Linked DNA regions of Homo sapiens. The protein of the gene in region 5 purifies or fractionates together with the protein of the main gene of each other region. This does not show direct contact. Each region holds a gene or a part of one and is shown on either strand. Other genes may lie near its edges. The genes, in order: MTARC1, SLC12A6, ABCC10, ZMPSTE24, KCNMB3, LTN1 and KCNJ12.

Region 1 (4,135 bases), on a different chromosome or scaffold from region 5:
CAGTCTAAGAGTCCAGACTCTCATTATCTTGGGGAGAAATTGAGAGTTGGAGTTCTGCGCATCACACATGGATAGTTTATAAGGAACTTTACACATGTTCTCTTTTTTAATCCTTACAACCTGCTTATGTGGGAATTTGCCTTTTCTTCATTTTACAGTTAAGTCTCAGGGGGAGTAACAGACTTGCCTGAGATCACAGATCTAAAGGATCCAGCTGGGGCCAGAGCCCAGGCCTGGCTGACTTCAGAGTCTAGTGGACTCTTCCCACCCAGGATGTAACCCTGGTCGTCGACATCCTCCTGAGTACACCCACAGGCCTGAGAAGAACCGAGGGGTCTCACAATTTAGTCACCTACACCAATTTCTAGCCACTTACATTTTTCACCTATCCCTTCCTGCCAACCAAGCACAGACACACTCACTCCCCCACCAGGTAATGAGGAGCAGAGGACCGTAAAGAGCGGCTGCCCCTCTCGGCACAGCCTCCCTAAACTGCACAGGTCGGGGTGAGGGAGCTGCTTTGTGAAAGTGCAGGTGTGGTCACCGGCTCACAGGTGGCGGTCCACTCCGCTGTCTAGGAGTAGAAGCGGGAAGAGCTATGGGAGTGGAAAAGGGGTTCTCGGTGGGCCGGCCTGCCAGGGCTTTCCTACAGCTGCCTGGTTTTGCTGCGGGCTCTCACCGCCTCCTGCACCACCTCCTCTTGCTACTGCTGCGGAAGCCCGCCTCCAGGCTGTGGGAAGACTCAACGAGGTCACTAGCGGCGCCTTGTGGCACTAAGAGGTATTGCAAGCAGTCTATGAATTCGTGCGCACACTAAGTTCAACACTCTGAAACAGTATTCTTTCATACATGGGTCTTCTACGATTTTTTAAATATGTGACTTTTCATATATGTATTCCTGTTGGTATTAATAAATTAAAACTCATTTAAAATCTTCCTTAGTGCACTTTCTCCTTAAATGAACATGAAACATAACTATTCTAATGAGCAGGAAGCCCAAGACACTTTATTTAGCTTAAAACCGAGGTCTCTATTATTTACAAGGTGCAATGTAAATGGAAACAGTTTGTTACCGTTAAAGTGCTGTGCACCACAGAGGGCTGATCCTTGTTTACCCTGCCTGGTTTACGCATTCACTGGTCAACGTCCAGGCCATGACTCCAGGCAGAGTATCTGGTCACTGCCCGATCCCACCACTGGCGTTCATGGGACCATAAGTCACCAGCGGCAGAAGCCATTCCTGAGGCCTCATGACTGCCTATCTCTATGGCCAGGTTAAGAATTAAACAGCATTGTTAATCCCAATACTTTGGGAAGCCAAGGCAGACACGTCACCTGAGGTCAGGACTTTGAGACCAGACTGGTCAACATGGTGAAACCCTGTCTCTACTAAAAATACAAAAATTAGCCAGGCGTAGAGGCGCATGCCTGTAATCCCAGCTACTTGGGAGACTGAGGCATGAGGATTGCTTGAACCCAGGAGGCGGAGGTTGCAGAGAGCTGAGATTGCTCCACTGTGCTCCAGCCTGGGTGACAGAGTAAGACTCTGTCTCAATAAATAAATAAATTAAATTAAATTAAATTAAATTGAAGAATTAGACGGCATCGTGAACGTTCCTGGGAGAGGTGCCACACTGAACCTCCAGAGGCTGGCCGCTGGGCAAGTTCGTGTTAGGTTTCATTTAAAGCAGCCTCTGAGTATGGGAAGAAGTGTGGTCAGGCTTCTCCTCCTCTCAGAAGGTGTCAAGTTTATAAACAGTGACTCTCAATGACCGCAGCTTACATGGTCACTGTGTACAGTATTTTATCATCTATAAAAATCCTATATCTTGCCTTATTCCAGTCTACCAGAAGAGGTATTACAAGTCCAGTTTATACCAATAAAGAAACTGTGACTTGAAGAGCCTAAGCGACTTGCCAATGTCACACAATTAGGAGGTGACAGAGCCAGACTAGGGTGGAGAGTCTGCCTCCTCCCATGGAGTTACCACTGCTATATATTCTGTGTTTAGCTCAGCAGAGCACAGCCTGACACAAGTGGCTGCTGGCAAATGTCATTACTGTCACAGTATTCGTGCATCCAGCAAAACGTTTTTTTTTTTGAGTACCCATGCAGTAACTGTGCTATATTCTTTCCATTAGGGGCAAAATGTCATGGAAGCAACAACGGCAGACTCCAGCCATTCCTTCAACCATGGGGATCAGTGTGTACGTCACTTTCCCTTAAGAAAGAAAAGAAAAATTCCATTTTCATATCTTCCTGTTAGCAGACATGCCTCCACTGTGCCTCCCGCTGTGAGCATTTTACAGACAAAGGCTTCCCTATGCCTCTGTATTTCTTTTCCTCCCACTGCTGTACCACCGCGGGCTCTGCCTGTGGGTGACTAACATCAGGAGGCAGGGCTGGTCAGGCACAGAGGTCTCCCAGCTGAGCGCTGGCATTCCAGAAGCAACCCCAGCCATGGGCACCATGAGTGCCCAGAGGCAGAAAGTGGTGTAGCTCTGAGCAACCTGCCCAATAGCAGAGAGGCTGTGGACACCACTGTTTGCTTCCCTTCCCATGATTTATGGGATGTGGCCAGGCCTTTCTCTTCCCGATTTATGACCACCTGTCTTGGGAAGAACATAAATTACACATCCATGGCAATTTAAATCTCAGTAAGAGATAGGAGAAGACACCTAGGCTGGCCGCACTGTCTCCTGGGGTATTAGAAGCAATTAGGGCCAGATTGTTGGGCTTCACAAAGCCTGCGGAAGATCAGGGGGGTGTGCTGGCTCCTTGCGCCCCCCGCCTTCCCACCCTCACTCTGTGTTTAGGGTCAATTATCCTCCTTCTATAAACACAGGCTCCCAATGGAGGAAGGGGGGCACTGAAGATGCAGAGAACAAGCCCAAACACGTGAAGTGCTTTGCGGAGGCTGTTTCTGCAAGAGCATAAACCTTCTAAATCCAGAGGGAAGGATGCCCCACACCGAGCAACACACAGGGGGAAGAGAAAGAACAAGATGGACAAAAAAGGATGACAGCCAATTCCCCAAACCACTTGGCTGATTTACACAGAATCATCTATTTCTGTCCTGCCTCCTTTATTTTATAGGGAAGAACACTCAGGGTCTGAGTGCGGGCAGGGGTAGGAGCACAGCAGTCGGTGTGCTGCACATCCAGGTCTCCTGACTCCCAGCCCGGGATCTTCCCGCTGGCCCACCCTGCTTTCTGCCCCTAGTAGCTCCTCTGTGGCCATGGAAAACAGGAAGACTGAATTCTGGTTTGTTCTGATGGTGAGTGAGCGCATTTCAAAGAATAGCTATAACCCTGGTCCTCTCATCAATGTTCTGTCACATATAGTGACATTTCCCCCCAAAATTTTACTATGAAAATTCTCAAGCAGGCAAATGGTGAAATAATTTTACAGCAAACACCCATTTACCCGCTGCTTGAATTCTGAGCTTAACACTTGACTATATATATTTGTTTTTTTGTTTGTTTGTTTGTTTTTGTGAGACAGAGTCTCACTCTGTCATCCAAATTGGAGTGCAGTGGCACAATCTCAGCTCACTACAACCTCCACCTCTCGGATTCAAAGGATTCTCCTACCTCAGCCACCCGAGTAGCTGCAAATACAAGTGACCACCACCATGCCCAGCTAAGTTTTGTATTTTTAGTAGAAACAGAGTTTCACTATGTTGGCCAGGCTGGTCTCGAACTCCTGACCTCAAGTTATCCACCAGCCTCAGCCTCCCAAAGTGCTGGGATTACAGGCATGAGCCATCGTGCCTGCCCTTGACTATGTTTTCTTTATCACACATGTATCTATCCATCAATCCACTGTATTGTCTTTTTGCATTTCCAAGTAAGTTGCAGACACCAGTACATTTCAACTCTGAACAGTTCAGCTTGAATATTATTACCTAGAGTAAAAACCATTATTTGCTTTTTTTTTTGAGGTGAAAGTTACATGGAATGAAATATACCAATCTTAAATGCTCCACAATATTAGCTTTTTACAGAAAAGTTGTTAATGTTTTGAGTATTGAGAAACATCTCTCAAAATGTTGGGATTCCCTTAGGCTGGTCTGTAGCCCCCTCTTTGAATGTTGATGCAAATCACACCCAACGCTGTTGGAGCCAGGTAGAG
Region 2 (4,135 bases), on a different chromosome or scaffold from region 5:
TAAATCAACATAGAACCGATGAGTTTGATCCTCAGATAATCCAGATGACTCTTCAAGATAATTCTGTAACAAGACTACAAATAACACTGAGTGCCAGCTAGTCCCTATGCCACTAGTCAAAGGGAAAAGTGAGCCTGTGAGTCACAGATGTGCACAAATCCATTACTACTTCAAAAAACATACTTTAAAGTATTCGCACTAGGGAGTTGAAGGAGGTGGTGAATGATGAGAGAGTACTTAATGGGTACAAAGTACATTATTTGGGTAATGGATAAAAGCCCTGACCTAGGCTGGGCGCAGTGGCTCACGCCTGTAATCCCAGCACGTCGGGAGGCCAAGGTGGGCCTTATAAAGGTTGCTGGCAATAACTACACTGTCTGCAAAGCCCTTTATGAATAGTTCAAAATGTGTATAATAAAAAAAGATTATGTACAATTATCAGGGAGAAAAAAATCTAATATCTGAACCTAAATGATGGTTACAGCTACTAGTTCTATGCTTAGGACATAAGAAAGAGGATGAACGGGACATAGTTTGCTGGTAGGCTTCCTGCCTAGATGAGGAAGGAAGTCTAACTGGGCTTATCTGAGAGGGAAAATCTCAGAGAGACTCTATGAAATTCTGACTTAAAATTATCACACCACCAGATATTTTCAATTACTACCCAATAAGGATGGCTAGGCAGAGAGACAGACACGTACGGGAAGTGTGGAGGAGCAAAAGAAGACTTGATGGCTCCAGCATAGATGGCCAAGATGGACACAATGACACAGGCCAGGAAAAGTGAGGCAAACTTGTTCACATAGCGTACGCCGATAAATACCACTAATACCATAAGGACCAAGAAAGCTGTGCCGTAGACACGCATGTTATTTAGCATGGCTGCTGATTCCTTGAGTGCGTCATCACTGTGAAAGATGGCAGCTCGGGGGACGATATAGACCTGTTAGGTAAAAATAAAGGAGAAAATTAGGTTATTTCAAAATAATTAAGTAAAAAGGCTGTATTCGTTTGCATTTACTTTCACAAAAGAAAGCAAAGCTGAGAGAGAAAATGACTGGGGAATTAGCCTAGTTTCTAATAGGATCTGAAATGCCTTCAGAAATGGGATGTCATGGATTTTTTTTTTTTTTTTGGTCTACATGCTGTTCTGAATAACTACATTTCCAAATGGAAAGAAAGGAAAGGAACAAATTATTAATTTTATTCATAGGGTTATATAAAGTAATTATAATGATGATCTTTAACCCTGACTCTACTATCACTACTTTAAATAGTAAACAATATGTCTCAGTGAAGAGAGATATGAGAAGCATTTTATTTCATAGGGATGAAGATATCAAAAAAGATAAACTTTATTTTACTTTTTCCCCATTGGACTTGAACCTCTTGGATGAGGTGGCAGAGTGGTGGCAATCAGGTAGAAAGGAAGGGACAGGCAGGCAAACAGAATTTCAACCTTTCCACCTCATATTCATGTAAGAGGCCAACTGACGTTGGCAGTCAATCACCTGATTTATTCCCACAGCTGATCTCTCAGAAGCTTTCATAGCAAAGAATAAACCTAAATCAATATTTCTTCTATATTATAGACCACAATGAAGTCATTACTTACCAGAAAGATTTCAATGGCACCAAGGATGTACATGGCTGCTGCAAATGTGGTACCAAGATAAAAGCAGAGGCCAACAGCCCCACCAAACTCTGGGCCCAGTGCCCGGGAAATCATAAAGTATGAGCCCCCAGCTAAAAGACAAAACAGAAGGTGAATAGAAGAAAGAGTGTGTATTAGCAAGAGGAATATGAATAAAACAGAAATAAGAAAAAATATATACATAAAGGTTAAATGTTTCAGGCTTCTGCAAACCCTCAATGTGATAAAAAGATGTGCTAGTGGGAAGTAAAAGGTGAAAGTGTTATTGTGGGATATACTGCACAACTAATGTAATGAGCCATATGAAGCAATAGTTTGCCAGCATTTACTTAGAAAAAAATTAGAGAATATTTACTATGACATGAGACAGCCCAATAAAATATATTCTGGCTGGGTGTGGAGGTTCACGCCTCTAATGGTAGCACTTTGGGAGGATGAGGCGAGAGGATTGCTTGAGGCCAGGAGTTTGAGACCAAACTGGGTAACATAGTAAAATGTCACCTCTGTAAAAAAAAAAAAATAGCCAGGCATAGTGGTGTACACCTCTAGTTCCAGCTACTCAGGAGGCTGAAGTGGGAAAGCAGCTTGAGCCTAGGAGTTGGAGGCTGTGTGAGCTATGATCGTGTCACTGCACTCCAGCCTGGGTGACAGAGTGAGACTCTGTCTATAAAAAAATATATATTCCAACTAATAAAAGCTAAGAATGTGACTGAAATTAATGCATTCTAGTTTAAAAAATAAAGAGATTTTAAAGACGGCATCTTAAAGTCAAGTAGTATTATGTCTACGTCCTATAGACCATTACTCTGTTGTAGCACAGAACAGACCAAATAGTATTCTATTCTTCAGAAGTTTGCACCTCTAGCTTTATAGCATAAACACAGAGTCAACACTGATAAATCCTGAAATACAACCTTGACCTACTAACCTGGCACCACTCCATTAGTGGCAATGGCACTCATGGAGATAGCAGTCAACATTGTCTGCAGAGAAAAGGAAAGGAGAGGATTGTTACTGTGTAAAGATGACATTTCTATACTACTTCTCCATTTGTGTTCCAAGAGCACTTGGCAAACATTTAACTCTACCTACTTTTATGGACAGTCATACCTAATGGTATGGAAATAAGATGATATGGTCCAATTCATTGCGCTAGTCATACCACTAATATCTGGAGGATTCTGTCAAAATGCTCCCACATCAGTAGGTCAGGTGCTATTAAGAACTGCTAATCTCACTCTGGATTTCCTAGTTACACAGGAAATAGAGCATAGTATACTCAAAAGGAAGAACTAGAGAAATAACTCAGAAAATAGGTTAGAACCTGACTAAAGACTAAATACAATATCAAGAACAATGTTCAGTAAGAAAGGGAATCACTGAAGGCTTCTGAGCACACAGGAACCGCATTTTAAAAATATTACCCGGTAGCACAGTATAGAATGCGCTGCAGATAGGAGTAGCTGGAGGCCGAGTGATTGGTTAGCAGGCTACCATAGTAGTTCAGTGAGAGGTAAAAACTATAGTGGTGGTAGTGTGAATAAAAAGGGCTGAGTGTAAAAGATTTCAGAGAATAGATTAGCGTTGGTAGCTGATTAGATGTGAAAAGCAATTAAGAAGCCAAACACAGCCTTGAGGTTTTAAGCCTGAGACTAAAAAAAGGTGGTACCATGAACATTTTAAGTTATTAAAAATATGAACTGTGCCTGCTTAACCTGTTTTGCTCATCAGCTGGGGATAATATACAGGTAGGGTATAAAGGTCATAGTGATAAAAAAGGACAGTAGAAAACTATAAAATTCATAGGTGTGTCTGGGATACATAATGAGAAGTTTAAATTAAAGGAAGATAAAAATGTTCTCAGTAGAGAGAAGACCTGGAAAGAACATCTAAATTTCTAAGGAAGGGATAAGGGAAGAAACTTCAAAACCAAATAAAAAAACCAAATACCCCTCACATCCGCAATAACCTGTCTTGTTTCTCAATATATACTGGAGTGATACATCACATTTTCTAACACATTTTCTGTCACAACTTTGGTGCTATCAAGCTCAAATAGTTTGGATTCTGAATTCTCTGAAGACAGGAACTTTATCTTCCATTTTCAGTTGAAGTCTTGCTTTGTAATTTCTAGTACATCATATAATAGATAGCAAGCAGTGACTAACAGGCACTGAATAACTGAAAATCCTTTAGATTTTAATATCAGAATAATTTCTTCTGTTGAGATCATGAGTCCTTCCCTAAGTATTCTTTGTTTTATTCCCAAAGAGGTCATGTGCATCTGCTCTTGAGAACTTGCAACGTTCAGGTGATCTCTAGGAGCCAGTGCAGTACTTACACAGCAGCAGCAGATAAGGACAATTGCAAAAGCCTGAAGAACTCCAGCTGTGCCCACCACCCATGTAAGGCGTAAAAAAAGGATCACTCCAAAAATATTTTGTAGACATGGGAGGTAGACACCCATGAAGGTACCCATTT
Region 3 (4,135 bases), on a different chromosome or scaffold from region 5:
AACTAGCTGGCCCACAGCTAGTAAGGGGCAGGACACAAGTTCAGATTCAGATTCTTAACTACTTTGTTACATTTACTACCCTTTTTTTTTTTTGAGACGGAGTCTCGCTCTGTCGCCAGGCTGGAGTGCAGTGGCACAATCTCAGCTCACTGAAACCTCCACCTCCTGGGTTCAAGCGATTTTCCTGCCTCAGCCTCTCGAGTAGCTGGGACTACAGGCGTGTGCCACCATGCCCAGCTAATTTTTGCATTTTTAGTAGAGACGGGGTTTCACCATGTTAGCCAGGATGGTCTCGATCTCCTGACCTTGTGATCCACCCACCTTGGCCTCCCAAAGTGCTGGGATTATAGGCGTGAGCCACCGTGCCTGGCCTATTACCCTGTCTTTTTAACAGGCAAGGTAGTAAGGTATCTTGGGCAGATTTGATGTAAAAGCTTTTATAGGTTTTTACTTTTTTGTGTGTGTGAGACAGAGTCTTGCTCTGTCGCCCAGGCTGGAGTGCAGTGGCATGATCTCAGCTCACTGCAACCTCCGCCTCTCGGGTTCATGCAATTCTCCTGCCTCAGCCTCCAGAGTAGCTAGGACTACAGGTGTGAGCCATGACACCCAGCTAATTTTTGTTTTTTTTGTTTGTTTGTTTTTTTTTTTTGTAGAGAAGAGATTTTACCATATTGCCCTGGGTGGTCTGGTATTTTTTTTTTTTTGAGACGGAGTCTCACTCTGTTGCACAGGCTGGAGTACAATGGCGCGATCTTGGCTCACTGAAACCTCCGCCTCCTGGGTTCAAGCTAGATTCTCCTGCCTCAGCCTCCCGAGTAGCTGGGATTACAGGTGCCCACGACCACGCCCAGCTATTTTTTGTATTTTTAGTAGAGATGGGGTTTCACCATGTTGGCCAGGCTGGTCTCGAACTCCTGACCTCATGATCTGCCCACCTTGGACTTCCAAAGTGCTGGGATTACAGGCGTGAGCCACCACTGTTAAGCCTGGCTGCCCTGGGTGGTCTTGAACTCCTGACCTCAAGCGATCCACCCTCCTTGGCCTCCCAAAATGCTAGGATTACAGGCATGAGCCACCACGCCTGGCCAATCATTCATTGCTTTCCCAAGTCTGCTAGGTCCTAGGTACTGTTGTAGGCACTAAGGAAAGAGATGAACAACAAAGCTTTTAGCTCAGGGGACTCACCATCTAGTGGATCACGGGTGCTTCCTCTGCGTGAGGAAGGGAATCCCTTTGCTTAGTAGCCCATTCCTGAGGCCACAAGAAGCCTTAGAGGTAGTACATTCCTTCTCTAAAAACCTACGAAAGCTGGGCCGGGCACAGTGGCTCACGCCTGTAATCCCAGCACTTTGGGAGGCCAAGGCGGGCGGATCACTTGAGCCCAACAGTTCGAGACCAGCCTGGGCAACATGGTGAAACCCCATCTCTACTAAAAATACAAAAATTAGGCAGGCGTGGCAGCTTACACCTGTAGTCCCAGCTACTCAGGAGGCTGAGGCAAGAGAATTACTTGAACCCGAGCGGCAAAGGTTGCAGTAAGCCGAGATCATTCCACTGCACTCCAGCCTGAGCGACAGAGCAAGACTCTGTCTCACACACACGAAAAAGTAAAAACCTATAAAAGCTTTTACATAAAATCTGCCCAAGATATCTTACTACCTTGACTGTTAAAAAGACAGGGTAGTAGGCCAGGCGCGGTGGCTCACGCCTGTAATCCCAGCACCTTGGGAGGCCAAGGTGGGCAGATCACAAGGTCAGGAGATGGAGACCATTCTGGCCAACATGGTGAAACCCTGTTTCTACTAGAAATACAAAAATTAGCTGGGCATGGTGGCACGCAGCTGTAGTCCCAGCTACTCGAGAGGCTGAGGCAGGAGAATCGCTTGAATCCAGGAGGCGGAGGTTGCAGTGAGCCGAGATTGTGCCACTGCACTCCAGCCTGGCAACACAGTGAGACTCCGTCTCAAAAACACAAAACAAAACAAAACAAAACGAAAATTAGCTGGGTGTGGTGGCTCACTCCTGTAGTCCCAGCCACTTGAGGGGCTGAGGTGGGAGGATCATTTGAGCCCGGGAGGCAGAGGCTGCAGTGAGCCAAGATGGCGCCACTGCATTCCAGCCTGGGGGACAGAAAAAAGACCCTGTCTCAAAAAAAAAAAAATTAATCAATTTTAAAAAAGTAATAAAAAGAATGACAGCTGGATACAGAATGCCCCATGGTCAAGGTTAAAAGTGCTCCTTTTCAGGGACATTCCACATTTACCTGGGTAGGGTAGTGGTGGTGACATTTCTGAAGGGGACAGCAGGGTTGGGTGGGAAGTCAAGGGAGAAATCTGGAATCTCTTCTCCTATAAATATAGTACTCTGGACTGGGGGCAAGGGGAAATCTAATAGCTTGGCAGGTTTCCCTAGGGTAACCTGCAACCAAATGAAACTTTGACTCTTCCAAGCCTTCCCAGTGGGAAGTGGGTATGGAGAAGGGGACAAGGAGCCAGGCTGTGCAGAGCTAAGCCCCACAGGTGGAACCCTCCCTAGCTCCAGAGGCCTTAGGGCTCTTCCCACAACTGTGCAGAACACACAGTCACCACCCTACTGGGCCCTATCAGAAGGGGCAGCTGGACACTCTGGGAGGACCACAGTCCGATGGCCATTCCTAGATAAGTGATGCCCGAGTAGAAGCAACCCCTTTCCAGAAAAGCAAAGCTCCTGGTTTGAGGTGTCAGGGACACTGGAGAAACAGGCAGCTAAGAGGTTTCAAGGCCAGGCACTCACACTGAGGTCATCATTGAGGGCGCAGGCTTCTAGCACCTCCTTGTACAGCTGTGCATCAAATGTCTTCCCAAAGAGGATGTTGTCTCGGATGGTGGCAAACTGGATCCAGGGTTCCTGGGTGGCCAGGCCAAAGCCCTTGGACAGCCCCCGCACTGCCACATGCCCACGCAGCCTGCAGAGAGCCAGGCGAGCAATATGAGGACCAGCTCTCCTCTGGGTCCCTCCATGCCCAGCCCTTGACTCCTAGAAGCCTCCCCAGGCTGCTGTCTTCTACACAGGGTCCCCCTTCATGTCACATGACTGAGATGGCAGCTCCTGAGGTCAAGGGGTCCTAATGAAGCCCATTCTGGGCGAAGAAGGGAAGAAATAGCTCTTTGGCTACAGCCAAGCAGCTGTTGTACTTACATCTGTTCAGGAGCTCAGTGGAGAGTATGGCCACCACATTGTACTTGTTCCCATCTGAAAACAAGGTCCTCCCTCAAACCTATGCTCCTCTCTGGATCCCTTCTCTGCACAGCCACATTTCTGAAAGAATAGCTGACACTGGATGTTTCCATTCCTTTGCTGACTATTATAGCATTTAAAACACTCTGGTGTAATGATTACAATGATTCGCTTTCTTGGCCACCTCCTTCTTTCCAGATTGAAAACTCTCCCAATAAAGGGACCATGCGTTGCTCTTCTTAGTACCCCTGACCCCCAAAAGGTGTCCAACACATAAGAGGGGCTCAGTGTTTGCTAAAGGACAAAGTAAGGACAGGGGTGCATAGGAGGTTGGTTACCTGTGGAGCTCTCCAGCGATGGCAGCCAGCAGGGAGCTCTTCCCACAGCCGACCTTCCCCACGATGCCCACCAGCATACCCTGCAAGGAAGCCACACAAGCATCTGCTATTGGTAGGAGACAGGACAGAGGTGGCAGTGGTCTCCCTCTTGACACTCTGGGCTGCCAGTCCTCCCACTGAGGCTTCTCTTTTCTTCTTTCTTTAGTGTGTAGGGAAAGAATTCTCCGCTTCACAGGCTGATCAACAAATCAGGCTCTAGAAAAGTAGGGTGTTTTTTTCTCCACTCAGAGTGGCTATCAGTTTCACTGTCTATGTGAAGGGCCTCTGAAGGGGAGCAGCATGCCAGAGAGAATGGGAGGAAACCACCCAAGAACTTCCAAGGTAAACTCTGAGACAGGCACTCCAGAACGGGAGAGGGAAGGGTAGAATTCCAGGCTTTAGGGCCTGGATGATGGGTTGGCTAAGTCGACCTGTGGCTAGAGTTACCATATCTCAGGGGAAAAAGCAGAGCTTTGCATAGATCCCTATTTCTGTGGCTTAAATTTTTCTGTTTACCTTTTTTTTTTTTTTTTTTTTTTTTG
Region 4 (4,135 bases), on a different chromosome or scaffold from region 5:
AATCCCAGAATATCACAGGCTTATTTGCAATGGTTTATTTCTCAATCACGTAATAGTCCAGTGTGAGTATTTTTAGTTATCAGGTGACTTTCTTCCATGTGGTAAGCCAAGAATCCAGGCTCTTTATCTTAGGGATTTGTCTGTATGATTTAAGGTACCTTTCATATAGTGCCTGTGTAATAAAAAAGGAATTGTTTTGTTTCTCATTTACTTCTCTCAAAAGTAAACTTTTTTGAAGGCAGGGATGATATTTCAGACCTTATGTTATCCATAGAATCAAGCATATTGCTTGGGATGTAGTAAGTAAGTGCTCAGCAAATACTTGTTGATTTGTTTGCCAGTAGTTCATAAAAACTGGATTTTTGTTTTTTCTTTTGTTTAGATCACTCAGTCCCTGGTGTTTCTGCTGTTGGCTACACTTTTCAGTGCATTGACTGGTTTGCCATGGAGTCTTTATAATACTTTTGTGATAGAAGAAAAACATGGCTTCAATCAACAGGTATAATAAAGAATACAAATGTTCTCTTTTAAATGTGAAAAACTTCTGTGCTTTTGTCCTGTACTGTTTATAATTTAAACATAATTTACTATTTCAGAGTATGAATTGAGAAAAAAGGGAACTACAGATATGGTAAAGATCATAGCTGAAAGTCTTGGGGGCCGCGGTGGCTCTGGCCAGTTGCCCTGGCACTCGGGGAGGCAAGGCTACATGTTCGAGGCCAACCTGGTCAACACTGATTTTAAAAAAAAAATACTTAAGGCCAGGCCCAGTGGCTCATGCCTGTAATCCCAGCACTTTGGGAGGCTGAGGCGGGTGGATCCCAAGGTCAGGAGATCGAGGCCATCCTGGCTAACACCGTGAAACCCGTCTCTACTGAAAATACAAAAAATTAGCCGGGCTTGGTGGTGGGCGCCTGTAGTCCCAGCTACTCGAGAGGCTGAGGCAGGAGAATGGCGTGAACCCGGGAGGCAGAGCTTGCAGTGAGCTGAGATCTCGCCACTGCACTCCAGCCTGGGTGACAGCAAGACTCCGTCTCAAAAAAAAAAAAAAAAAAAAAAAAGAAAGAAAAAAAGTCTTGACTGGGTACAGTGGCTCACGCCTGTAATCCCAACACTTTGGGAGGCTAAGGCGGGAGGATCACTTGAGTTCAGGAGTTCAAGACCAGCTTGGATAGTATAGTGAGACTTCATCTCTACAAAAAAATTCTAAAAGCCAGTTGTGGTGGCATGCACCTGAAGTCCCAGCTACTTGGGAGGCTAAAGCAGGAGGATTGCTTGAGCCCAGGAGGTTGAGGCTACGGTGAGCCATCATTGTGCCACTGTACTCCAACCTGGGCAACAGAGCCAGACCTGTCTCTTAAAAAAAAAAAAGAAATTTATGTTATAAACTCCTTTAGCACTAATATCTATTGTTTTTCAGCTACTAATCATTTGTTTGTTTGCGACAGGGTCTCGTTCTGTCACCTAGGCTGGAGTGCAGTGGCAGGATCATGGCTCACTGTAGCCACGACCTTCCAGATTCAAGCAATCCTCCCACCTCAGCCTGCCTAGTATCTGGGACTATAGATGAATTATACTACACTGGGTTAATTTTTTTATTATTATTTTTAGTAGTGACAGGGTCTCACTATGTTGCCCAGGCTGGCCTGGAACTACTGGGCTCAAGCAATCCTCCCATCTAGGCCTTCCAAAGTGCTGGAATTACAGTTGTGAGCCACTGCACTCGTCCTCAGTTAATAAGGTTTAAATGAATTTTCAGCTGTAAAATGCAAGACATTTACCCATTGTCTTAAGCTGCCTAATGTCATATAATATAGTTTCACTGCATGTTAATTTTAAAAATTGCTTTAATAATGTATCCTTTGTATTTATTTATCAGTTATTTTAAAAAGCAGAACCAGTTTCTCAGTTTCTTGTGGTAATGTTTTCTTTTTGCAGACTTTGGGGTTCTTCATGAAAGATGCAATCAAGAAATTTGTTGTGACTCAGTGTATTTTGTTGCCTGTGTCTTCACTTCTACTTTACATTATTAAAATTGGGGGTGACTATTTTTTTATTTATGCCTGGCTGTTCACATTAGTTGTGTCTCTGGTGAGTAAAATCTTTATTTCGTTTTCTTTTGCAAAAGTTCCTTGGTGAGATTACTGTAATCTTCATTGGCATGTAAACAGTTCTTAAGAAGCAGCTGAAATATAAATAGGTGCTTATATACATTTCCCCCTTGGTTTCTGCTTTTGATTGTAGACACAGGAGTATTGACTGACCATAAATTTCCTTCTCCTTATGCTAACTCTTCAGGTCATAGAAACTAGTTGTTAGTCACTTTTAATGATTCAGTTGTCAGGCAGTTTTGGGTTGTGCATTTGCGAGTTGCCACCAGAATGACTAAGTGTGATAATTTAATGACTCCTGACTGACCTCCACTGCCTAAAATCATGGTTATTTTGAAGAGAAATGAGATTTAAGAGGGACAAGAGAAAGAAAGCATATACTTAACTGGCTTTCTTCTGCTTCCCTTCCCTTGCCTTTCCCTTCCACGTTAGACACTCTCTCCCTTCTTTGCCCCATCTGCTTCCCCTTCCCCTTCTATCTTTTACCCATTCTTCTTCCTTTCCTTCTCCTGTCTTCCCTTTTCTCCCCAACTGCCACCTATTCCTGCCTCTCTTCTCCTTTCCTTTTCCCTCTCACTCTTTTCCCCCTGATTTTTCCCTCCCTCACATCTCCTATTCCTCTTCTCTTTCCATACTCTCAAGTGCTTCACAACACAAACACTACAACGCAGTCAAAATGGTCTGTTCAGGGCCAGGCACAGTGGCTTATGCCTGTAATCCTGGCACTTTGGGAAGCCAAGGTGGGAGGATTGCTTAAGCCCAAGAGTTTAAGACCAGCCTGGGTAACACAGTGAGACTCTGTCTCTACAAATAATAATTTTTAAAAAACCCAAATGAAAAAACCCAAAGTGGTCTGTTCAGTGCACCCAGAAATTATCATCTATCAGCTCTTCAGCTCCACTGATGAGGTTTATTTTATTTTAGAGATAGGGCCTCCCTGTGTTGCCCAGGCTGGAGTACAGTGGCTATTTCACAGGCATGATCATAGTGCACTACAGCTTTGAGCTCCTGGGCTCAAGCAGTCCTCCTGCCTTGGCCTCCTGAGTAGCTGGGACTACAGGTGTGTGACACCATGCCCAAGCTGAGGTTTATTTTAGTCTGAATTACATAATGCTCATTGTTTCATTTTCCATTGATGGGATCAAGATCAGAAAATGGGCGCTAGTTGGATTTACAGGTATCTATTGTATGGCAAATTAAAGTAAGATGAAAAAGAGCAGAGAAAATGCTCTAAAAATGCTTAAGGAAGTGCTATTTCAACCACATTGTACAATTATGAACTACAGGTAATTAATTTTAGCTGATAAGCCAACCAAGTAACAGCACACAATCAAGTTCTACTAATTCTTTTTTGGGAAAGACTTCAGGTCTATTGTGATTACGCTAAAAGGTAGAACTGCGTGTTATGATTGACTCATGAAGCATCAGAAATCCCCAAGATAGTTTTGAAAGGACTATACTTATTACCACCTAGAGATTTTAATCACTGTTAGTAGCATTATCCTTTAAAATAAAATTCATAAGTTTACTCTGTTATCAGACTACTCATTTCAATTTAATTCATCAGACAGATATTATGCTCTTACTATCTGGTACTATTTGGGCCTGGGAATACCAGAGCAAGTAAGTTCCTTGTTCTCAAGTTTGAGGTCAACATAGTTGTTTTAATATAATTTAATCTGTATAATAAAGAATGTTTTTTCTTTAAGAACATGTTCATATGTTATTCTGACATTTACTTTTCAGGTTCTTGTCACAATCTATGCTGATTATATTGCCCCTTTATTTGACAAATTCACACCTCTGCCTGAGGGAAAGCTTAAAGAAGAAATTGAAGTAATGGCAAAGAGTATTGACTTTCCTTTGACGAAGGTGTATGTTGTGGAAGGTAAGGCTACCTGGGGATAAGAAAGTTTTATCCAAGTGGTTTGTTTTATTTGATACTTTATTCTTAAAATTTTAATAAAAGAATTAATCAGTTTTTGTTTTTTTCTTTTTAAAATTTGTTATTTAAAGGCTAGGAG
Region 5 (4,882 bases):
TGTGTGGGCCATCCTACAAAATTAAATAGCCCCTCCCCTTCCCTAATCAGAACCCCCATTCCCCTCATTTCAGCAAACATCATTTAGGTATTAAGAAGCAAGTCTTACGTCAGAATGACAGGCATATTATTTACCGGCTATGTGAACTTGGGCAAGTTACTTGGCCTTTCTGAGCCTCAGCTTTCTCATTTATAAAATGAAAACTAAAATAACACTTCCATCATGGGCTGCTGTAGGTTTAAGTAGGATAAAATATAGTATGTATTGAGCATACAGCATATACTTAATAAGTAGCAACTAAAGTTGACCCTTGAACAATTCAGGGGTTAGGGATGCCAACACCACACCCCCAAACCTGCAGTCGAAAATTTGCATATAACTTTTGACTCCTCAAAAATTTAACTACTGGTCAGGCATGGTGGCTCATGCCTGTAATCCCAGCACTTTGGGAGACCAAGGTAGAAGGATGACTTGAGCTTAGGAGTTCACGACCAGCCTGGGCAACATAGGGGGATCCCATCTCTACCAACAATTTAAAAATTAGCCAAGTATGGTGGCACACACCTGTGGTCCCAGCTACTTGGGAGGCTGAGGCAGGAGGATCGCCTGAGCCCAGGAGGTCGAAGCTGCAGTGAGCCATGATTGAACCACTGCACTTCAGCCTGGGTGACAGAGTGACACCCTGCTTCAAAAAAAAAAAAAAAAAACTTAACTACTAATAGCCTACTGTTGACTGGAAGCCTTACCAATAAACAGTTGATTAAGACATATTTTGTATGTTTATATGTATTATATACTGAATTCTTACAATAAAATAAGCTAGAATAGCCAGGCACAGTAGCTTATGCCTGTAATCCCACTGACTCAGGAAGCTGAGGTGGGAGGACTGCTTGAGCCCAGGAGTTCAAGACTGCAATGAGCTGTGATCACACCACTGCACTCCAGTGTCACAGAGCAAGACCCCGTCTCTTTTTTTTTTTTTTTTTTTTTTTGAGACAGAGTCTCGCTCAGTCACCCAGGCTGGAGTGCAATGGCGCAATCTCGGCTCACTGCAAGCTCCACCTCCTGGGTTCACACCATTCTCCTGCCTCAGCCTCCTGAGTAGCTGGGACTACAGGTGCCCGCCACCGTGCCCAGCTAATTTTTTTGTATTTTTAGTAGAGACGGGGTTTCAGCATGTTAGCCAGGATGGTCTCGATCTCCTGACCTCGTGATCCACCCATCTCGGCCTCCCAAAGTGCTGGGATTACAGGCGTGAGCCACCGCGCCTGGCCCAACCCCTTCTCTTAAAAAAATAAATAAATAAGCTAGAGAAAAGAAAATGTTATTAAGAAAATCATGGCCAGGCATGGTGGCTCACGCCTGTAATCCCAGCACTTTGGGAGGCCAAGGCGGGCAGATCACAGGGTCAGGAGTTCAAAGGTCAGGAGTTCAAGACCAGCCTGGCCAACATGGTGAAACCCCATCTCTACTAAAAATACAAAAATTAGTGGGCATGGTGGCAGGCGCCTGTAATCCCAGCTACTCAGGAGGCTGAGGCAGGAGAACTGCTTGAATTCGGGAGGCAGAGGTTGCAGTGAGCCAAGATCGTGCCACTGCACTCCAGCCTGGCGACAGAGCAAGACTCCGTCTCAGAAAAAAGAAAAGGAAAGAAAATCATAAGGAAGAACAAGATCATGTCATTTGCGGGGACATAGATGAAATGAAGCTGGAAGCCATTATCCTCAGCAAACTAATGCAGAAACAGAGAACCAAACACTGAATGTTCTCACTTAAAAGTGGGAGCTGAATGATGAGAACACATGGACACCTAGAGGGGAGCAACACACACTGGGGCCTCTCAGTGGAGTAGGGGGAGGGAGAGCATCAGGAAGAATAGCTAATGCATGCTGGGCTTAATACCCAGGTGATGGGTTGATCTGTGCTGCAAACCACCATGGCACACGTTTACCTTTGTAACAAACCTGCACATTCTGTACATGTACCCCGGAACTTAAAACAAAAATTGAAGAAAAAAAATCATAAGGAAGAGAAAACATGTTTACTATTTACTAAATGGAAGTGGATCATCATAAAGGTCCTCTCCCTGTCCTCTTCATGTTGAGTAGGCTGAGGAGGAGGAGAAAGAGGAGGGATTGATCTTACTGTCTCAGGGGTGGCAGGCACAGAAGAAAATCCATTTATAAGTGGATTCCCGAAGTTCAAACCCATGTTGTTCAAAGGTCAACTGTATCACTACATATATTGAATAAAGAACCTAATTAAAAGGAAGGAAACTAATATGTATTGAGCAACTACTATGTGCCAGGTAGACACTGTCAAACTCAAAAAATTCAGACTCAAAAAACTTTTATTGTGCTCACATACAAGGTTTAACTCTCTCTTGGAATACCAACATTTTAAGGGGAGGATTTATGACCTAAATGAAGAAACTATAATTTGTGGATTACGTGTTTGGAGGTATATATAGATTATGAGATGGGAGGAGGCAGTGCAGGGAAATATCTTTGACCTTCTCGCCACCTCTTCCTCCACACCCAGCTGCCCCCAGCACTGACAGCGGAAGAGGAATTGTATTTTTCTTTTTCTAGACCATGGCAGAGAGTCACAGATTGAGAAACCAAAGCCAGCCTCTCCTCCTTTACCGCTGTGCCTGGATCTTATCTGAATTGGAAACTCTAGATTTCCTTCCTCTGTTTCTTACCTGAGCATAAAAGGCTTTAGAATGGTTGTTCCGAGCAAGAAGAACATTAGGACTGAGAAGCCCATCATGGCAAACCCCAGCATCACGGCTCGGTCCTCTCCAGCACTGGATGGCAGCCTCTTGTGCACATCTAGTGGGTCTCCATCACTGTAGTCTGTCTCTCTCTTCTTCCCTGAGGCAGGAAAGGCTGTCCTTTGGGGAAAGGGAGAAGGAGATACTGCAGTGAGCTCATAAAGAAGGGGGAACATTTCCAATCCATGGGGACTGGAGGGATAATCTCATTTGCTGCCTACCTGTGTCTCGTGAGCAGGATGAATGCAACAAAATGAAATCCCAGTTCAGAGCTTGGTGAAAAGTCCATCTAAATAAGCTAAAGTGATGTGTAATCAAGTATTTTTAAAGATATTGTAGCAAACAAGCCTAAGAAATGTTGCCTCATGCAAGTCTGTAGAGATCTGTTTAATCAATAACTAGAGAATGTTGTATGTAAATAAGTGTTACGAACTTTGTTATCTTTCAGGGATATTGCACGTCCCTCCTGAAAATTTGTTTACATTCTCCTTTGAATTCCACATGGAAAGAATGACTCAAAAAGTTCACATTTGGAATTAACAGCGTCCTGAACAGGGTTTGACTTATTCTTTCATATTCACCTGTTGGAAAGGCAGCATATCCACCACCAGAATTTCTGGCCACTGCCCAGTCCACTCAGAATTATGAAGTTGTCATGGCTTCTTTGCTCCTCTCACCCTCCTTCTCCTCCTCTCTGGCCACTCATGGTTCTGCATAAGTGTCCCTTCATTTCTTCTCTCCTCTCTCCACTGTGCCTGCAAACCTGCTCCAGCAAAGGATGAGATACATTCTCGCAGGGCAGGGTGTCTGGTGAACAGAAGAGTCCAACACAAAGGTCGCAAACCGGTGGGCATGGCGGCATCCAGCCCACAGATGTGTTTTGTTTGGCCTTCTCTGTCGTTTTTTGTTTTTGTGTTTTTTGGTTTTTTTTGAGACGGAACCTCGCACTGTTGCCCAGGCTGGGTACGATCTCAGTTCACTGCAACCTCCTCCGCCTCCCAGGTTCAAGCGATTCTCCTGCCTCAGCCTCCCTAGTAGCTGGGATTACAGGCGCCGGCCACCATGCCCAGCTAATTTTTGTATTTTAAGTAGAGACAGTGTTTCACCATGTTGGCCATAATGGTCTCGAACGCCTGACCTCATGATCCACCCACCTCAGCCTCCCAAAATGTTGGGATTACAGGCGTGAGCCACTGCACCCGGCCTGGTTTATTATTATTTTTTTAATGTGGGATAACTTGTTAAGACCTTAAAAATCATGACATTTCTCATAAAAATGCTGAGTTCTGACTTTGGAAATAATCCCAAGATGCACGTCCCTGCAGATGAACAGCGGGCCCAGCAGAGCAGTGGCTGCCCCTGTGGAAGGTGTGTTCTCTAGTTTGCCAAAATCCCTCCACTTCCTACAGTGTCACTGATTTGCCATTCCCTGCTCAGTAGCCATTTGAGTTCCAGAAGTATCTCCATTTTAAGAAGCTTAATGAAATCTTAAGCCAAACAAATGCAGCACTAATGGTAGAAACACAGGCTCCATCAAGCTTCCTAAAAGCTTACTGCATTTTAAAGTCAAGCAAAAACCCCATCAAGGAAATTACTGGTTGTTTTTTTCCCACAAGCATAGTTTATGCCTTATCCCACATCCTTCCCCTTCCCTCTCCCTAGCTCCCTTTTCCCCCAGCAACATCTTTAGGTTCTAAAGCGAGTAAAAGGAATGTCAGACAATCCAGAATGTTCCAAGAGCCTGTGCCAGGAAGCACCAACCTCAGAAGGTGGGGCACTCCATGGTTAACACTTCTTTGGGACCCGAGGATCTAGTTTAGGAATTTTTAGTTGTCTTTGATATTTTACTCATCCCCTATCATCCTACCACCAGAGAAGGGGCATGGAAAAAAAATTTAATGAAATTTGAACCTGTACTTTTTTTTTTTTTTTTTTGAGATGGAGTCTCCCTCTGTCACCCAGGCTGGAGTGCAGTGGGGCAATCTCGGCTCACTGCAACCTCCGTCTCCCGGGTTCAAGCCATTCTCCTGCCTCCGCCTCCTGAGTAGCTGGGACTACAGGCGCCCACCACCACGCCCGGCTAATTTTTGTATTTTTAGTAGAGAC
Region 6 (3,752 bases), on a different chromosome or scaffold from region 5:
CACACTTTCAGACGGATCCAAATCCAATGCCTTTGTTTGATGTACTTCAGGGATCCCTTCCAGTGAAAAAAATCTCAGAAAAACGTCTCACGACACAGTGGACAAGTGGATTTGTTGCTAGATGTAAACCATTTGTACTGAAAAAGAAAAGGTTTTAAATACTAAAAGAACTTTTAAAGTTCTCCTCTAACATACATCATAAAGTACACATACATCTATAGTAACCTTCAAATGATAAAGTGAAAAGGGAAGAACAATAAAATTTTTGCTCTTTCTGTTATCTCCAAAATTAACACAAATTGAGTATTACTTCCGATGGCTACACTAAGTTCTTCCTACTTAGGCTCATGCACACAATCACTAAGATATAAGAAATCTCCTGTGAAACAAATGAACAAATGGCAACTTCTTTTTCAGTATGTTTAAAAAGAGCACAGGGCTCTGATGCCAGATGGCTTCCAGTACCAACTCCTGTACTCTCCTTCATGGTCTAGATCTCAGAAGACCTTCTACTTCTTGAGTGGTAAAAGGTCACTGGAAACACCCATTTATTAGAGGGCCTTGATTCTACCAGTCTCAGTAAACTGCTAATTATCTTTGGCAGATTTTAAAAAATCACTTTTTAATATATCTCCCATTAGCTACAATTAAGTTTAACACACATTTTCTCTTCCGAAGTTAGACATTGTGTAGGTGTGTGTGTGTGTGTGTGTGTGTGTGTGTGTGTTTATGTGTATAAAATACATAAAATATAAGTAAGTTAATTTCTCTTTAGACTTACCAAGCAGGCTGAATGGAATTTTTTCTTGCATGTTCTACAGGCTTTTTTGGGAAGGGAATAGTTGAAACCGTGAATGACTGAGAAACAGATCATGCAATCTTCAACACCCTCAAAACGTTTGTCTACGTTATTTTTCCATAAAGCTAAGCCTTCCATAATACTTCCATTCTGTTAACAAGAAGAAAAATAAGTCACTACACACTGATAACCACCAATTTTATTTTTATTCAATTTCACAAATTTTAAAGTTGAATTACAATTCTGAAAGAAGAGAATCTGCTTGGCTATGTTCATGTCTCCCAACTTATGAATGTTGGTTTTTAAAATAACCTCCCAAGTTTTTGGAACCAGATGTAATTTTTCTCCATTAAAGACATACTTTAAAGGCTTCTGGACCAATACTTAAAGTGTTATAGTCTAAGCTTGTTGCTTGATAAAACTCTCTTAATAATTAAATCATTTAGGTTAGTTCTAATGTTTAACTGAAAATGATGAAATTATCTCAAATGATTTGTTCCAGCTCTACAATATTGGTGAGCATATTTGTTTTAAAATAGTTTTTCTTGGCCGGGAGCGGTAGCTCAAGCCTGTAATCCCAGCACTTTGGGAGGCTAAGGTGGGTAGATCACTTGAGGTCAGGAGTTCGTTGACCACCATGGCCAACATAGTGAAACCCCATCTCTACTAAAAATACAAACAATTAGCCAGGTGTGGTGGCGGGTGCCTGTAATCCCAGCTACTCTGGAAGCTGAGGCAGCAGAATCGCTTGAACTGGGAGGCAGAGGTTGCAGTGAGCTGAGATCATGCCATTGCACTTCAGCCTGGGCAACAAGAGCAAAAACTCTTAAAAAAAAAAAGTTTTTCTTTATTGTAGAATGCCTGAGATACACAATGTGCACACAGAACTGAAGATTTAAAATGTGTTTAGAGGTCAAAGGTCTTTGAGGGTCCTGGGACTTCTCTAACCAAAGAGGAGTTGAAATGTAAGAATAAAAGTGAAAGTAGCTCAGAAGGCATTCATCTGTCCAGTATCTTTCAAAACATCCTCTCCGAAACAATTTTGTTAATACACCTTCTACAGTGTTAATGAAATAAAGTCAATCCCTCTCAAACACCAGAAAATAAATTACAGAACCTTAACAATTAAAACAGAAAGGCAGGTTTAATCCATTTAGGCATATCTCTGTATTTATCCAAGGAAGTTTAATATCTACTTTTATCTTAAGCAGAAAAGATATATTTTATGTTTAAATGCCCTTTTAAATAGATCATCTTTTCCAAGTTTGTAAAGCCAAATGTGTAAACAGAAACTTACCTGATGGGTGAGGTAAGTGCTTAACTGCAGCATCCAGTTCCGCCACTGCTGAACAGCTACTCCTACTCTTTTCCCACTTTCTACTATTATTGAACCCAGTGGATAATTTGAAGGCAGTTGTATTATAAGTTCAATAACTATGTCCTCAATAGTATAAGTAGCCATTACCTCTCGAGTAGTAGCTCGAGCTTTAACCTGCAATACAACAAAGGATATTTTGTTTGCCAAATTTCTGTCTTTCAACCAGAAAACATTTTGATAGGTTGACTATTAAAAGCTAAAGACTTCATTCAAGGACAGTGCAGGTAAATACATTCACTTATCTGACATGAGATAATTAAGAAATACGTTTAAATACCTGCCTGGTATATTTTTACAGTGATTTTGTGATATTCAAAGTTTGTTTTAAAAGAAATTAATTGCTCATAAAAAAGGTTTTATTATATTAGGCTTGTCACATAATAGTTCAATAAACCTTGAATAGATAAGTGACAGAATGGGTTATTATGCTTCTCTTCCACACCCAGAGTATCGAATGTCACTTCTACATCTAACAATTCTTCCTCTACCATATTATCCTCCTGAGCTTTGGAGCCAACTATCAACTGTCAGAACATTTATAGTTATTTGTTTGGTTTTCAAACCAACATTGCAAACTCAACATAAAACGCACACATTATTATCCTTTACAAACTTCATCTTCTGAATTTCCTACTTCCAGGCTAAAAAATCATGATAGCTCATTTTAAATTTCTGCTTCTACCTCATCCTAGATATTAACTAAATCACTAGCACAAAATCTCTCACATCCCTACTTTTATATTCCCACTGTTACTGCCTCACCCATGCCCTAGTCCTTTGCTCATGTCTACCCCAATAGTCTCCTCTACCATTCATTTGAATCCAAACTGTTTGCCAACAGATCATGCTATAGATTGTGGTCAGAGCAATTTCAAAGATTTTAACTCTGATCATGCTACTGCCTGAATGAAAAATGTTCAGTGGCTGAATTGTACCACTTTAGACCGTTATTTGAGGCCCTTCCCAACATACCTCTTATTCACCGTTGATTCTATTCACCCTTGGGACTCCTACGCATTATTTGGGTTGGAGTACTGCATTATTTATCATTTCCTGGGCAACGACTGAAATGACATTCTCACTTCTATGCTTTTTGCTTTTGCAATACTATTCTCTCTCTCTCTCTCTTTTTTTTTTTTTTTTGAGATGGAGTTTCACTCTTGTTGCCCAGGCTGGAGTGCAATGGCGTGATCTCGGCTCACCACAACCTCCGCCTCCCGGGTTCAAAAAATTCTCCTACCTCAGCCTCCCGAGTAGCTGGGATTACAGGCACGTGCCACCACACCTGGCTAATTTTGTATTTTTAGTAGAGATGGGGTTTCTCCATGTTGGCCAGGCTGGTCTTGAGCTCCCGAGCTCAGGTGGTCTGCCCGCCTCGGCCTCCCAAAGTGTTGGGATTACAGGCGTGAGCCACCACACTCGGCCTATTTTCTTTATAGTAAATGCCATTCCCTTCATTTTCCCCATAACAAAATCCTGCCCACCTCCAAGTGATTTTCTTCCATAAAATCTCACTTAATCCCCTCAGCCAGATGAATCTTTCCCACTCAGATCACAAGGCACTCTTTCTCTTAA
Region 7 (4,135 bases), on a different chromosome or scaffold from region 5:
TGGTCCTGGGCCTCAGCCAGGTGTGCCCGGTTGGCCAGGTGTGCAGCCAGGTGTGCCAGGATGGGAGATTGTCTCCTGGGGCTCACCTGGGGAGTGGGGGCAGAAAAGGAAACCAGGTAACATGAGGACTGGCAGCAGGGATACTTCTCAGCCCTCCCTGCCTCCACCCCAAGGGTGTACAGGAGGGTGCGACGTGACACCTCCACTGTGGGAGCGGGCAGCCTGAGGCCAGAGAGGGTCCCCACAGCCGGAGGTCACACAGTTCCCGGAGGAAGGCTGGGGCGCAGCCTTGAGGCCACAGACCCTCTGTCCCTGATGCTTCCAGGCAGCTTTTGGGGACTTGGCAGGGGAGGGGCCGGGGAGAAGGGAGCATGTGGAGACTGAGATGTGTATGATAGAGAGGATGAAAGGCCGGGGGCAGGAGAGGTCAAGGGGGATGGAGTGGCCTGGTGGCCGGAGGTGTGCCCTTGCCCCTGCCCGCCCCGCTTGCTCCAGCTGCAGCCGGGCCCGAGCTGGCGGCTCCAGGCCTGCAATTCTCCAGCACTTAAAGCAAAAATAAATCGCTGCCAGCAGCTGGCGTTCTGTGTGGCAGCAGCCGAGCCAACCCCGCCCCGACCCTCTGCCTCGGGGCTCCTGGTTCCGGGCCAAGCCAGGCTTCCATTCAGGGCTGGGGGGCGCCGAGGCCAGAGAGGGTCCAGGGGAGCTTGGCGTGGCCGGAGGGGGCGGGTCCTGGCATGATCACAGGGAGGGCAGAGGCAGATGGAGACCTGGGGCTTCCAGGGGTGCTGGGATCTGGGGCAGGTTGGGGATGCTCAAAAGTGGGGCTTCTGACAGTCTTGGGTCTTGTGGAAATAGGGCCTGGGAGGGGCAAACTCAGGGGTCACAGCCACCTGTTTGGCCCTGGGGATCCCCAATCACAAGCCACCCCCAGCCTGTCCCCTGGATGTCCCTTTCTTTCCATCCCCTCCTTTCCCTTCTCAGAGAATCCTAGAGGTCCTAGAGGTCAGGTATTTGCGTGGTGAGCTTTGAGGATGCAGGATTTTGGCCTCATTCCTGAGCTCAGCAGGTGGCTGGGGATGTGGCCTGCACAAGACCCCTGCCCTGGGGGGCTGACATCTCAGTGGGTGGGGCAGGATGAAATAGACAAAAAACACATGAGCCATCACGGGCATTGTCATATTTTGTTGAATATAACAGTTTTTAATTATAAGAGTGTTATGTGCTCACAGTAAAGTGATAAACAGTTGTAAGGGGAAAAGTGAATTTCTCCTCCTCACCCCCTGCCTCCCCCACCCCCAGAGTTTCTTGTCCTTGGGGTGACCATCATTAGAGAGGCTTCTGGGTTTCTCAGTGCTTATGCAGACGTGAATAAGTAAATGGAGGCATAGAAACGTGCTAATATCTAAGTTGCCTTTTTTTAAATTCGTATGGGACCATTGCATACATGTCATGGCGTCCCCTGCACTATGCGCACTGCTGTGTGGTGCCCGTGCCCACTGGACCCAGGGGGTCTCATCCTGTCGTCCTGGGCATGGATTGAGGGCTGAGTCTTGGGACTGTAGGATCTTTGTGGCATCTGAATGCACAGAGCCACCGAAGTCCGTGAGTCATGGGTTCTTTTCGTTGTCATTTTAGCTGCGTTGAGACAGAGATCCTGGATTGCAGGATTTGGTTTAAGTACCAGGAGAGGTACCGAGTCCTCGCCTGGGTGCCTCCTTCGTCACATCCCTCTGGGAGTTGGGATAATCCAGATCCCCTGCCTCCATCCCCAGAGCTCAGAGGGTCTGGGGGGCTTCAGAGTCGCAGCCTGGGGCTTTGGGACCTCTGGGTGAACCTGGCTCCCACTCAGGGCAGAGTAGACACGCTGGAGCTCGGAGGGGAGGCGCTCATTGCTGCTCCCACTGGGGTCCTTCTTCCTTTAGCCTCTCTTCTTCCCTTAGCCCTGACCTCCTAGAAACAGGATCACTTGTTCCCTCACTGTCTTCAGGCTGGGGCAGGCCTCTGTGTGGGGAATGTCACTTTGTTTTTTTTTTTGTTGTTGTTTGTTTGTTTTTTTTTTTTTTTGTTTTGAGACGGAGTCTCACTCTGTCGCCCAGGCTGGAGTGCAATGGCGCGATCTCAGCTCACTGCAATCTCCGCCTCCCGGGTTCACGCCATTCTCCTGCCTCAGCCTCCCGAGTAGCTGGGACTATAGGCACCCACCACCGCGCCCGGCTAATTTTTTTTTGTATTTTTAGTAGAGACGGGGTTTCACCGTGTTAGCCAGGATGGTCTCGATCTCCTGACCTCGTGATCCGCCCGCCTCAGCCTCCCAAAGTGCTGGGATTACAGGCGTGAGCCACCGTGCCCGACCCAGGAATGTCACTTTGACCTGTCTCCAAGCTTCCGCATCTCAGTGCCTGTCCCATCCTTGTCATTCCTTGGAACCTGGCCTGAGATGCATCAGGGTGGTCCCACCTTACTCCACCAGGGCCCCTTATTAGAAAGGATCTGCTACACTGATTGGGAGAGTGACTAGTCTGTGGTCACTCTCAGTATCTGTCTCAGTGTCTGTGGGGATCAGATATACCTGGTGCCCTTCTTTTATGAGCCTCACTTTCCATGTTTGTGAAATGGGGAGGCAGTCCATTCTCGTGTCTGGGCATCTGTTCTCTCCTTCCCTCTGGGCTTGGGCACTGCAGGCAAGACAGGGCAGCTTCCTGGCCTCCTTGATCCCTATTCTGCTGTGTGGCCGGAGGCTCGGCCCTGCCATCACCCCGGCCTGCTGGGCTGCAAGCTGTCAGCAGCACCTGCCCAGTCAGAGCGGCCAGGTCCCTCCCCAGGCCCTGGGAGCCTTGAAGACCACTGGAGGCAGTGCCCCAGGAGGTAGCCGTGGAGTGGCCCCGGCCCTCCCTGGGGGTTGTGTAACAGAGGAGACCCCGCTGCCCTCCTCTTTTCCTCTGCAGGGTGGAGGCTGGCCTGGGCCCTGCCAGCACAGCCTCCAGGCCACTCATGGGTCCTGGCCTCCATCCCACGGTAGATGCCCTGACTCTGCAGCACCAGGGCTCATGACCAGGCTCTTGGTGGCCTTAGGACCAGCTGCCGCTGGGTGGGGATGCCCCAGATCAAAGGCAGGTAATAGAGAGGAGACTGGGAGGACAGTGGGTGGGGAGCAGGAACCCTGGGAGCCTCAGTGTCCTCCCCTGTGAAATGGGAACACTAGAGAAAGTGGGTTGGGCAAACCCACACGCCTACCATTGCATCTGGGGTGTGGAAGGAGCACTGGGGCAGGAGTCTGGCAGCACCACCAACCAGGTCCAGTAAAGAAAGCCGAGGCAGGGATCAGAGGGCGGCAAGCCAGTGAGACCCTGTGTTGGTTTCCTGCTGCTGCCACCATAACAGACTGGGTGGCCTAAAACAGTACAAATGCAGCATCCGTTCTGGAGGCCAGACGTCTGAAACCGGTGTCTGCAGGGCTGGTTCCTCGCGGAGCCTCTGAGGGAGAAGCCATTCTGGGGCTTTCCCCCAACTTCTGGGGCTTCTGGCGGTCCTGGCATTCCTTGGCTTGTGGGCATCTCCAGTCTCTGCCTCTTGTCTTCACATGGTCTCCTCTCCCTGTGCTGCCTCTCCCTCTCCTCTCTCTCACTCTTTCTGTTATGAGACAGTCTCACTCTGTCAACCATGGCTCACTGCAACCTGGAACTCACAGGCTCAAGTGATCCTCCTGCCTTAATCTCCCAAGTAGCTGGGACTACAGATGTGCACCACTATGCCTGGCAAATTTTTAATTTTATTGTATTTATTTTTTTTAACTATATGTTTTTTTGATATGGAGTCTCGCTCTGTCACCAGGCTGGAGTGCAGTGGCGTGATCTCGGCTCACTGCAACCTCCACCTGCCAGGTTCAAGAGATTCTCCTGCCTCAGTCTCCTGAGTTGCTAGGACTACAGGCATGCGCCACCACGCCCAGCTAATATTTATATTTTTAGTAGAGATGGGGTTTCACCATGCTGGCCAGGATAGTCTCGATCTCTTGACCTTGTGATCCGTCTACCTTGGCCTCCCAAAGTGCTAGGATTACAGGTGTGAATCACCGCGCCAGGACCTCTACTTCTAAGGATGCTTGTCATTGGATTCAGGGCCCACCCTAATACAG

The links.
Region 1: the proteins of KCNMB3 (region 5) and MTARC1 purify together in Homo sapiens (affinity purification with mass spectrometry; one large-scale study listed by BioGRID and IntAct). This does not show direct contact.
Region 2: the proteins of KCNMB3 (region 5) and SLC12A6 purify together in Homo sapiens (affinity purification with mass spectrometry; one large-scale study listed by BioGRID and IntAct). This does not show direct contact.
Region 3: the proteins of KCNMB3 (region 5) and ABCC10 purify together in Homo sapiens (affinity purification with mass spectrometry; one large-scale study listed by BioGRID and IntAct). This does not show direct contact.
Region 4: the proteins of KCNMB3 (region 5) and ZMPSTE24 purify together in Homo sapiens (affinity purification with mass spectrometry; one large-scale study listed by BioGRID and IntAct). This does not show direct contact.
Region 6: the proteins of KCNMB3 (region 5) and LTN1 purify together in Homo sapiens (affinity purification with mass spectrometry; one large-scale study listed by BioGRID and IntAct). This does not show direct contact.
Region 7: the proteins of KCNMB3 (region 5) and KCNJ12 purify together in Homo sapiens (affinity purification with mass spectrometry; one large-scale study listed by BioGRID and IntAct). This does not show direct contact.

What each region holds. Positions count from the first base shown.
Region 1 is NC_000001.11:220,806,946-220,811,080, reverse strand, and holds part of MTARC1 (mitochondrial amidoxime-reducing component 1 precursor), read right to left. Parts: intron 1-4,135. UniProt on the Homo sapiens protein: Catalyzes the reduction of N-oxygenated molecules, acting as a counterpart of cytochrome P450 and flavin-containing monooxygenases in metabolic cycles.
Region 2 is NC_000015.10:34,253,647-34,257,781, forward strand, and holds part of SLC12A6 (solute carrier family 12 member 6), read right to left. Parts: coding exon 3,996-4,135; intron 2,638-3,995; coding exon 2,583-2,637; intron 1,747-2,582; coding exon 1,616-1,746; intron 944-1,615; coding exon 702-943; intron 1-701.
Region 3 is NC_000006.12:43,437,433-43,441,567, reverse strand, and holds part of ABCC10 (ATP-binding cassette sub-family C member 10), read right to left. Parts: intron 3,635-4,135; coding exon 3,555-3,634; intron 3,549-3,554; exon of another isoform or gene 3,180-3,548; coding exon of another isoform or gene 3,178-3,179; intron 2,945-3,177; coding exon 2,773-2,944; intron 1-2,772. UniProt on the Homo sapiens protein: ATP-dependent transporter of the ATP-binding cassette (ABC) family that actively extrudes physiological compounds, and xenobiotics from cells.
Region 4 is NC_000001.11:40,268,037-40,272,171, forward strand, and holds part of ZMPSTE24 (CAAX prenyl protease 1 homolog), read left to right. Parts: intron 1-382; coding exon 383-499; intron 500-1,938; coding exon 1,939-2,091; intron 2,092-3,857; coding exon 3,858-3,999; intron 4,000-4,135. UniProt on the Homo sapiens protein: Transmembrane metalloprotease whose catalytic activity is critical for processing lamin A/LMNA on the inner nuclear membrane and clearing clogged translocons on the endoplasmic reticulum.
Region 5 is NC_000003.12:179,248,039-179,252,920, forward strand, and holds the start of KCNMB3 (calcium-activated potassium channel subunit beta-3), read right to left. Parts: upstream 3,077-4,882; 5' UTR 3,066-3,076; coding exon of another isoform or gene 2,998-3,065; 5' UTR 2,953-2,997; coding exon 2,705-2,952; intron 1-2,704. UniProt on the Homo sapiens protein: Regulatory subunit of the calcium activated potassium KCNMA1 (maxiK) channel. Modulates the calcium sensitivity and gating kinetics of KCNMA1, thereby contributing to KCNMA1 channel diversity.
Region 6 is NC_000021.9:28,930,374-28,934,125, forward strand, and holds part of LTN1 (E3 ubiquitin-protein ligase listerin), read right to left. Parts: intron 2,292-3,752; coding exon 2,097-2,291; intron 950-2,096; coding exon 782-949; intron 138-781; coding exon 75-137; 3' UTR 1-74.
Region 7 is NC_000017.11:21,382,722-21,386,856, forward strand, and holds part of KCNJ12 (ATP-sensitive inward rectifier potassium channel 12), read left to right. Parts: intron 1-4,135. UniProt on the Homo sapiens protein: Inward rectifying potassium channel that probably participates in controlling the resting membrane potential in electrically excitable cells. Probably participates in establishing action potential waveform and excitability of neuronal and muscle tissues.